3 linked regions of the Homo sapiens genome follow. The protein of the gene in region 2 purifies or fractionates together with the protein of the main gene of each other region. This does not show direct contact. Each region holds a gene or a part of one and is shown on either strand. Other genes may lie near its edges. The genes, in order: ISOC2, COA6 and MSRB2.

What was found.
Region 1: the proteins of COA6 (region 2) and ISOC2 fractionate together in Homo sapiens (co-fractionation; one large-scale study listed by BioGRID). This does not show direct contact.
Region 3: the proteins of COA6 (region 2) and MSRB2 fractionate together in Homo sapiens (co-fractionation; one large-scale study listed by BioGRID). This does not show direct contact.

Annotation. Positions count from the first base shown.
Region 1 is NC_000019.10:55,455,521-55,458,751, forward strand, and holds part of ISOC2 (isochorismatase domain-containing protein 2), read right to left. Parts: intron 970-3,231; 5' UTR 967-969; coding exon 829-966; intron 326-828; coding exon 116-325; intron 1-115.
Region 2 is NC_000001.11:234,376,409-234,380,060, reverse strand, and holds part of COA6 (cytochrome c oxidase assembly factor 6 homolog), read right to left. Parts: intron 1-3,652. UniProt on the Homo sapiens protein: Involved in the maturation of the mitochondrial respiratory chain complex IV subunit MT-CO2/COX2. Thereby, may regulate early steps of complex IV assembly.
Region 3 is NC_000010.11:23,112,508-23,116,159, reverse strand, and holds part of MSRB2 (methionine-R-sulfoxide reductase B2, mitochondrial precursor), read right to left. Parts: intron 1-3,652. UniProt on the Homo sapiens protein: Methionine-sulfoxide reductase that specifically reduces methionine (R)-sulfoxide back to methionine.

The sequences.
Region 1 (3,231 bases), on a different chromosome or scaffold from region 2:
GTCAGGATGGGGGTCCTGCAGGGAAGTGGAGGTTTCTGGTCAGGGAAGGAGGTTCTATTTAGGATGGGGGTCCCAGGTTAGAACGAGGGACCCCTGGGGTCAGTCAGCATCTCACCAAGATGCAGGCCTGTGCCTCAATGCCACAGAGCAGCACAGAGCGCAGCTGGGGCCGACTGTCCAGCTCCTGCTGCAGGGCAGGCACCATGCTGAAGCAGGTCTTGGCCAGCGGCCGAAGGCCCTCAGTCCCCAGCTCGGGCACCGTGGGGCCCAGGCCTTGTGGGTACTGCTCCGTCAGCATGACTGGCACCTCAAGCAGCCGGGCCACCTGTGCCAGTGATGGGGAAGAAAGGTCAGGGTCTGAGGGAGGAGGGGCTGGGCCTGGACTCCTGGGTCTGAGGGAGGAGGGGCTGGGCCTGGACTCCTGGGTCTGAGGGAGGAGGGGCTGGGGGTCTGGACTCCTGGGTGTGAGGGAGGAGGGGCTATGCCTGGACTCCTGAGTCTGAGGGAGGAGGAGCTGGGCCTGGACTCCTGCGTCTGAGGGAAGAGGAAGTGGGCCTGGATCCCTGGGTCTGAAGGAAGAGGAGTTGGGCCTGGACGCCTGGGTCTGAGGGTGGAGGGCTGAGCCTGGATCCTGGGTCTGAGGGTGGAGGGCTGAGCCTGGATCCTGGATCTGAGGGTGGAGGGCTGAGCCTGGATCCTGGGTCTGAGGGTGGAGGGCTGAGCCTGGATCCTGGGTCTGAGGGTGGAGGGCTGAGCCTGGATCCTGGGTCTGAGGGTGGAGGGCTGAGCCTGGATCCTGGGTCTGAGGGTGGGGGGCTGAGGTCATACCTTGAGCATGCGGGCAGCCACTGAGACGATCTGTGGGAAGTAGGCGATGTTGTGGCGGAACTTCTCCTGCATGTCACACAGGAACAGGACAGAGGATCCTGGGAGGACTCGGCCCAGGCTGGGCCTGGCAGCCGCCATTTTCTGGGGGTGGGCAGAGGGACGGTGGGTCAGGCCCGAGGGCTCCTCTCAGTGTCTCCAGCTGGCGTCCAGGTCCTCACACTCAGAGCCTGGCAGGGCCCGGGGCACCTTGCCAACCTTCTTCCCACCTCAAGGTCTCTGTGTCTGCTGTTCCCCGGGCCTAGAATGGGCTTCTTTCTTATTTCTGTCCTATTCGGCAGGGAGGTGACTTCCTTGGGAAGCCTTCTGGGCCACATCCACACGTGGCTCCGGGTGTCCCTCTCCTGGTCCCTGTGTTCTCCTTGCTGAGGACTGTGCACAACGTCAAGGAGTGCTTCATGATCCCGGTTACCATCCGCCCCGGTTACCATCCACCCCAGTTACTATCAGTCCCGGTTACCATCAGCCTCAGTTACCATCTGCCCTGGTTACCATCCACCCCAGTCACCATCCGCCCTGGTCACCATCAGCCCCGGTTACTATCAGATCCCGGTTACATCAGCCCCGGTTACTGTCAGCCCTGGTTACCATCAGCCCCAAAACGGAGGCTCTGCTGGGCGTCCTCCTGTGTTGGGCCAGCCCACTCCCCAGGGCCTCCTGAATGAAGGGTCCACCCTGATCCTCACCCTGCTCCAAGAGGAAACTGAGGCCATATTCTTCAGCCATAGGAAAGAAGGGGGACCCTGCACAGGCCACAACCTGGATAGATCTCAACACAAAGACCACGGAGCGTGCGATCCCGTTTTCCTGAAATGCCCAGAACAGGCAAATCCACAGACAGAAAGCAGATGGGGCCGGGCGCAGTGGCTCACGCCTATAATCCCAGCACTTTGGGAGGCTGAGGTGGGCGGATCAGCTGAGGTCAGTTCAAGACCAGCCTGGCTAACATGGCGAAACCCTGTCTCTACTAAAAATACAAAAATTAGCCAGGCAGTGGCGGGTGCCTGTAACCCAGCTGCTCGGGAGGCTGAGGCAGGAGAATCGCTTGAAGCCCAGGAGGCAGAGGTTGTAGTGAGCCGAGATCACACCACTGCACTCCAGCCTGGGTGACTGAGCAAGACTCTGTCTCAAAAAAAAAAGAGACTGGGCTTGGTGGCACACGCCTGTAATCCCAGGACTTTGGGAGGCCGAGGCGGGCGGATCATCTGAGGCCAGGGGTTTGAGACCAGCCTGGCCAACATGGTGAAACCCCATATCTACTAAAAATACCAAAAATCAGCCAGGCACGGTGGCACGCACCTGTTGTCCCAGCTACTTGGGAGGCTGAGGCAGGAGAATCACTTGAACCTGGGAGGCGGAGGTTGCAGTGAGCAGAGATAGCACCACTGCCAGTCCAGCCTGGACAATAAGAGCAAAACTCCATCTCAAAAAAAAAAAAAAAAGAGAAAGAAAGCAGATGATTGGCTGCCAGGGGCTGTGGCCGGGAGGAATTCAGGTTGACTGCTGGGGGGTGTAGTTTTCAGTTTGGGATGGTGAAAATGCTCTGGGACTTGGTGGTGGCGGCTGCAGAACAGCATGACTATGAATGCCACTCCACTGCATTTTCAAATGGCTGAAAGGGTAAGTTTTATGTTAAGTGCATTTTACCACAATTAAAAAAAAAAAAGAAAAGAAAGAAAAGAAGAGAAAGAAAAAAAGGACAGGCTGGTGAAGCCACCTGGCCAGCAATTCTTTTGCAGGGGAGGAAACCTCGACCCAGAGGGCCCGTTAACCTGCCCTAAGTCCTGCAGCCATACAGGGCACACCTGACTTCCACTCGGTCAGAGCGTCTACGCTGTCAGAGCGTCTACACCGCAGGGGCCCTGAATCAGCACGTCTTGGCCTACGTCCCTGGGAGGCTTGTGCTTTTGGGTCTCCGAGTTTGCTGCACAAGTGAGGGTTTGGGCTGGGCTTTTGTCTGCAGCTCTCTCCCCGTCTGTGTGTACAATTTGTTTGTACTTAACTCATTTATTCATTAATTCACCAGGGAAATGGGAGACCCTGGAGGCTCATTGGAGGCAAGACAGAAGGTGTTCTGGGAAGCTGAGGGAGGCAGGGCACTCAACAAGAAGCTGCTATTTTCTTTTCTTTTTTTTTTTTTTGAGATGGAGTCTTGCTCTGTCACCCAGGCTGGAGTGTAGTGGCGCGATCTTGGCTCACTGCAAGCTCTGCCTCCCAGGTTCAAGGATTCTCCTGCCTCAGTCTCCCAAGTAGCTGGGATTACAGGCTTGTGCCACCATGCCTGGCTAATTTTTGTATTTTTAGTAGAGATGGGGTTTCACCATGTTGGCCAGGCTGGTCTTGAAC
Region 2 (3,652 bases):
GGCTATCACTGTCAAATGCTGCAGAAGTCAATGGGAATAATTTACTATACTACCTGCTTCCCTTCTTTGTTACAGTCATCTACAACTTTGCAGGTCACCATCTGATATGGTTAGGCTTTGTGTCCCCACCCAAATCTCATCTTGAATTGTAATCCCCATAATCGCCACTTGTCAAGGGAGAGACCAGGTGAAGGTAACTGAATCACCGGGGTAGTTTCTCCCACGCTGTTCTTGTGACAGTAAGTGAGTTCTCATAAGATCAGATGGTTTTATAAGGGGCTCTTCCCCCTTTGTTTGGCACTTCTCCTTCCTGCCGCCTTGTGAAGAAGGTGCCTTGCTTCCCCCTTGCCTTCCACCATGATTGTAAGTTTCCTGAGGCCTCCCCAGCCATGCTGAACTGTGAGTCAATTAAACCTCTTTCCTTTGTAAATTAACCAGTCTCAGGCAGTTCTTTATAGCAGTATGAAAACGGACTAATACACCATCATTTTTTCCAACAATAATCAGGTCACAACTCGTGGGTACTCAGGTCAAAACTCGCGGGTAATTTCAATGTCCACATACTGATCTTTTCAATACCATGGCCTCTGTTCCTTGACCTCTTCAATGATCTCATCCTCCAACCTACCTTACTCCCAGGATCAAAGCTTATATCTTATCCTCATAACAAACAGAACCCTTCCATAATTCCAATTGTGAGAATCCCATTCTCCAACCCCTACCTCTGAACATTCCCTCTTGGACTTAATGCCAACAGCCAACCAGTCCCACCACCTTTCTACTGATTGTCATCCCTCTCATGGCCTCACTTCCCTCCTTACTCCTAAACCCAAAGCTCTCCAATAGCTTCCTGTATTACTAAGAGTAAAAGCACCAACCATGGCCGGGCACAGTGGCTCACACCTATAATCCCAGCTCTTTGGGAGGCTGAGATGGGCAGATCGCTTGAGTCCAGGAGTTCAAGACCAGCCTGGGCAACATGGCAAAGATCACACCACTGCACTCCAGCCTGGGCAACAGAGTGAGACTGTCTGGAAAAAAAAAAAAAAAAAAAAATTAAAAAAGTACCTCCCTGGCCTCCCGTCTCTTGGCTCTAACTTATGCTATTTTCTTCTTACTGTCCCTTAAACACATCGGTGCAGGTTTTTGTTGCTTTTTTTGTTTGTTTTGTTTTTTTCAAAAAGAAAAAAAAACCAGAGTCTTGTACTCACCCAGGCTGGAGTGCAGTGGCATAATCTCAGCTTACTGGAAACTCCACCTCCCGGGTTCAAGCAATTCTCCTGCCTCAGCCTCCCAAATAGTTGGGATTACAGGTGCCCACCATCACACCCAGCTAATTTTTGTATTTTTAGTAGAGACTGGGTTTTGCCATGTTGGCCAGGCTGGTCTCAAATCCTGACCTCAGGTGATCCGCCCACCTCGGCCTCCCAAAGTGCTGGGATTACAGGCATGAGCAACTGCGCCTGGCCCATCAGTGCAGGTTTCTGGCTGTTTCATTCTCTCTGCCTGGAATCGTCTTCACCAGGTATCTGCCTATCTGTTCCCTAACTTTTTTCATAACTTTGTGAAAACAGTTACTGTATAAATAAAACCTTTCTTGACCATCCTACTTAAACCTGTACCCTTGTTTGATTTTTCATCCTATCACTTATCACCATATAACATCCTTTTAATTCTACTACTTGTCTCTCTCCCCATACTAGAATGTATGCTACATGAGGGCTGAGCACTTTGTCTATTTTTCCTTGCTGTATTTTCCTATGGCACATAGGAGGTGCTCAATAGATATTTGTGGAATGACTAAATGAACAGGATATGCACCAAAAAAATGACCATGGAGCTGAAGTAGGGCCATCATCTATATTTGGGTGATTTTTTTTCTCTATCATTCCATTAAAATGGGCAGGTTATGTGTTCTTGAACTTTAATAAATACGCTTTTTACAAAACACGTGAATGTACTTTTCTTGTCAGAAGGGGAACACTGAGTCTCCGCTCTAGATCCATTAACTGTCATACTCCTTCCCCAGACAACACAAGTGCTTTAACTGATGATGAACACGGTCATTCCTCTCCTTCACCCCCTGGCAGCAAGACTGGTTACAGAGAGCTTGCACTCAGCTCTGCGGTTCTACGGGTGAGTTTTATAGGTACACACCCCATGTGGGGGTGCTGTGGTAGCTTCATGCTGCCTGCATCTGGACAGGTGAGGTAATGGCCACTATTGGGCCTCTGTCCAGATTCCCTCTGCAGACCCATGCACGCACTCCCCGCTGTGCTGGGCAGTGGCTAACAGCAGATGGCTGCCCCCTTCTCCAGAGACCTGCCCCTCAGCCAATGCCAATGACTGGCAGGCACAAAAGCCATGAAATATGGTGCAATTTACACTCCAGAGCTTCCAGAAGGATCAGAGTGAAGCTGGACAGCAGCTGAGCTCACAGCCCTAACTTACCTAGTCTCCCTCCTGAGAACACTCCAATAATTCAGTCGAGGGTGACACGCAGGTCCCGGGTCCTAAGTTGATGCTGGTGTCTTTCACTGAAGCTGGAAGCATGGGAGGAGAGGCCTACTGGGTGCAGGTCATGAGTGTGGGCCCTGCTAACCTGATGGGATTAATGTCCTTATAAGAAGAGGAAGAGCCGGGTGCAGTGGCTCATGCCTGTAATCCCAGCACTTTGGGAGGCTGAGGCGGGTGGAACAAGAGGTCAGGAGTTCAAGACCAGCCTGGCCAAGATGGTGAAACCCCATCTCTACTAAAACTACAAAAAGTAACTGGGTGTGGTGGCGGGCGCTTGTAATCCCAGCTACTCAGGAGGCTGAGGCAGGAGAACTGCTTGAACCTGGGCAGCAGAGGTTGCAGTGAGCTGAGATCACACCACTGCACTCCAGCCTGGGTGACAGAGTGAGACTCTGTCTCAACAACAACAAAAAAAACAAAAAAAGAGGAGACAGAGACTGGATCTCTCTCTCTCTCTCTCTCTCTCTCTCTCTCTCTCTCTCTCGGCAACACAGCAAGAAGGTAGCTGTCTACAAGCCAGGATGAGGGCCCTCATCACAAACTGACCATGCTGGCATGCTGATCTCGGACCTCCAGCCTCCAACACTATGAGAAATAAATTTCTCTAAGGTATTTTGTTATGACAGCCTGGGCTAAGATAGGCATCAACACATAAGCTGGGACTTCAAGCCATGGCTGTAAACAGGATTGCCTTGGTCGAGTGAGTAGCAGAGAAGGGAGCTCTAATGAACACGGGCATTTAAGACTCACAGCAAGGCATTCCAAAGAGCAGCGGCTGCTAGACGCGAATGAAGGAACTGGGTGAGAGAACCGTAAAGAGACCCAAGGAGACAGGGCTTTTGTATTCAAGTAGACCTGAATGATAACTCAGTTTCTAGAACTACATGAGACTTGTGCAAGCTATTTTCATGGATCCTTTTCTTGCATGGTAGGCATAGGAAGAAGTATGTGGGGTCTGGAATCAGACTACTGAGTTCAAATCCAGGCTCTGTTACTACAGGTGACTTCATGTCAATGTGCCCTTACCTATAAAACCGCTAAGAGAGTTCCACGAGGGATAAATAAGATAGATGACACATTTCAAGTGTGTAGAGTGTAGAGTGTAGAGGATGTACTCAATTCATGTTAGCGGTGA
Region 3 (3,652 bases), on a different chromosome or scaffold from region 2:
GCATAGTACCTGACACATGGCACTTGAGTTGGTAGCTATTTTTTAATATTTTTTTATTATTAATACCAGAAATCTATGGAATGTGAGCAGTTGTGGGTCCAACTAGAAATGTCTGCATATTCAGGTCGGATTCTTTGCAACCCTCCTCCAGGGGTTCAAAAACATTCATCTGGCCACTCTGCTCAGGGAAAAACATCATTAAGTATCTTTTAATCCCAGTCTTTCCATCCTCAACATTATATATCAACTAGTGATCATTAAAGGTATTTTGATTGAGAATTATGAATACAATAAAATTTTTTAAATAAATGAAACTAAGGCTAATAAAAACTCATTAAAGCATTTTATGGGAAACAATAAACCTTTATTGATGCAATTAGCAGAATCGGGAGATTTTTACCAAGTAATATGAGAGGCCTAACATATATAAGTTAAGACTGGGAACCAAAATATTAAAGCCAATCAGAAATTCCAATATACATATTTAAGTGATTAGCAGATTGTAAGGTTTGCCCTTGAAGAACTAAAACCATTCTGAATCATATACTCTAAGGGATTTTTACTTTGTTTCGTTTTATTTGCTTTGGTTTTCCTTGATTTCTGGAAGTTCTACAGGTCCCAAACCAACAGCACAGGCACTTGGTGATAACTGACAACCCTAACCTCTTAGAAGAATTTCTATTCCTTTGAGGGAATGGGGCATACAGAAGGTTTTTAACAATATTACTTAGTTACTCATGGTACATACGACATCAGGATATTACGTAAAAGGTGAACTAGTATCAGGCTCTGTTTCCTCTTATTTTAAGAAGATTTGTGATCATGAAATATGTGATCCCACAATAGATTTTAATAAACACATTCCAAATAGGCTCATGTAGAAGAAGAAAGGGAGAAGGAGGAGAGGAAGTGGCAGTGATGGGCAATGTCACTTCATTCCGAGTTAAGGAAAGAGAGTCTGGAGTCCCTAGGAGTGTGACAACACATTCTGGAAAGTGTTCTTGACCCAGACACCTTTGATTAAAGGTGTCTGATTTGGAGAGGCAGAAGCTCTCCAAAACTGTGCACCAAACTCATTCCAACAATTATAGGATGATGAGGAGAATGACGCTAAGTCTGGTGGATGAGGCTGGGAACAAGGCTCTGGAAAGGGAACTCATGAGTTACACTGGCTGGGATCACTCTCAGAGGCTGGTTATGTCTTCTGGGAAACTTACACCTGTAATAAGGAAAGCAGGCACCAAAAGGCGATGGCACCTATGTCAACGGAGCTGCCCGTGTGGCTTAATGGAAGCTCAGCTAGTGAAGAATGTGGGCTCTGGAGTCCAAAACTGTGGGTTCATATTTTGGCTGGCTACCTGTAAGCTGCAGAACCCTGGACAAGTTATTTCATCTTCCTAGCTCTCAGTTTCCTCACGTGAAATGAGAATGATAATAACACTACGGGGAGCTGCCGAGAGGTCTGACGAAACGATGCACATGAAGAGCCTGGGCATGGCACCTGCCGCGTGCCCAGAGGGCTCCTTCATTGCTGGGGTGCTTCCCACTCTCAAGAAGAGTGCAGTGGAGCCCAAATCCCTGCACTATCACTTACTAGACAAGTGACCTGGAACAAGTTAGTTAAATTCTTTAAGCCTCAGTTTTCACATCTGTTAAGTGAGGGTCTTAATAGCTCCTTATTGGAGGGTGAGGATTGTTTGCAAAGTACTAGAGCCCAGTGTCTGGCATGTAAGTGCTCAAGAAGTTGCAGCCACTTCCCTCACATTTTCACAGTGATTTCATAATCACAGCTTTTTTTTTTTTTTTTTTTGAGATGGAGTCTCACTCTGTCACTCAGGCTGGAGTGCAGTGGCTCAATCTCAGCTCAATGAAACCTCTACCTCCTGGGTTCAAGCAATTCTCCTACCTCAGCCTCCTTAGTAGCTGGGATTACAGGCATGTGCTACCACGCCCAACTAGTTTTTGTATTTTTAGTAGAGACAGGATTTTGCTATACTGGTCAGGCTGGTCTCGAACTCCTGACCTGCAGTGATCCACCCGCCTTGGCCTCCCAAAGTGCTGGGATTACAGGCATGAGTCACCACGTTCAGCCCGTAACCACAGCTTCTGATAGTCCCAACATTGCTATGATGTCTAAGCAGCAGGATGGATATTATTAATCAACCAATCAATACGTACTTATGGAGCATCTAAGTATTAGTTTCCAAGGTGGCTGTAACAAAGTACCACAAAATGGGTGGTACTCTCTCACAATCTTGAAGATAGAAGTCCAAAGTCAAGGTGTCCACAGGGCTCTGAAGCATCTAGGGAATCCCTCCTTGCCTCTTCCTACCTTCTAAGGTAGGCAGTCTTCGGTTTGTAGCTGCGGATCACCAATCTCTGCTTCCGTTTTCACATGGCTGTCTCCTCTCTGTCTGGGCTTCTCTTCTTCTTATAAGGACAGCAGTGATTTTGGAATTAGGGCTGACCCTACTCCAATATGATCTTATCTAAACTAATTATACCTGCAGCCACCCTATTTCCAAATAAGGTCACATTCCCAGCTTACAGGGATTAAGACTTCAACATGTCTTTTTGGGAGACACAATTCATCCCATAACAACTTCCATGAGCCTTGTCCAAGAAGCATAAGATGGCCAAGGGACTCGAAAGCTAATCAAGTTTATCTCCTTAACTAAATAAAATACTTGATCCAATAGGAGAATAATTAGGTCCTAAATTGTGTGATACTGATAAATTAATAGGAATTTGAAGCAGATTAAAAAAAAACCCATGGTGTGTGCTATCAGAGAAGGTTTCAGGAGAAATCTGGGATCCAAAAATAAGTGGAATTTCAATTAGTATTAGTGGGGCTGAGCAGATCCCAGGAGGCCAGCTCAGCATGAAGGGAAGTCCCAGGCAGGAAGCAGCCAAGCTGGAGCAGGGAGCTCAAAGGAGTGAGCCCTGCATTTACTTGTTAAAAGAACTACTTAGTTTTGGTTGACCAACTTTCCCTTCACTTTCACTCCACACAAGCATTTGAAGGAATTATTTTTTCTGTACCTCTGCTTCCTACTATAGAGACTGGAGACCAGAGACAGAAAGAGAAGGAAAATGAGAGGCAAAACCAGAATATATTTCTAAAACTCCTCTTGAACAGGAAGAAGTCTCAGGAATATAGTCTGCATTTGTATGTTCTCATTAATTAGAATATATCCTCCAGAATTCCTCAGGATCAAAAGCGCATTCATGTATACAGCCCTAAGAGGGATCTATTGCTTAAGAACACATCATTACGCCCGGGTGCGCTGGCTCACGCCTGTAATCCCAGCACTTTGGGAGGCCAAAGCGGGTGGATCACCTGAGGTCAGGAGATCAAGACCATCCTGGCTAACATGGTGAAACCCCGTCTCTACTAATAATACAAAAAATTAGCCAGGCATGGTGGCACACGCCTGTAATCCCAGCTACTCAGGAGGCAGGAGAATCGCTTCAACCTGGAAGGCAGAGGTTGCAGTGAGCCGAGATCGCGCCACTGCACTCCAGCCTGGGCGACAGAGCGAGACTCCATCTCAAAAAACAAAACAAAACAACAAAAACATCATTACTAACTTGCATCAAGTGCCTGGCCTGAGTCAGTCATGTCAGGCATTGCTCTATGCTTTTCCATGTA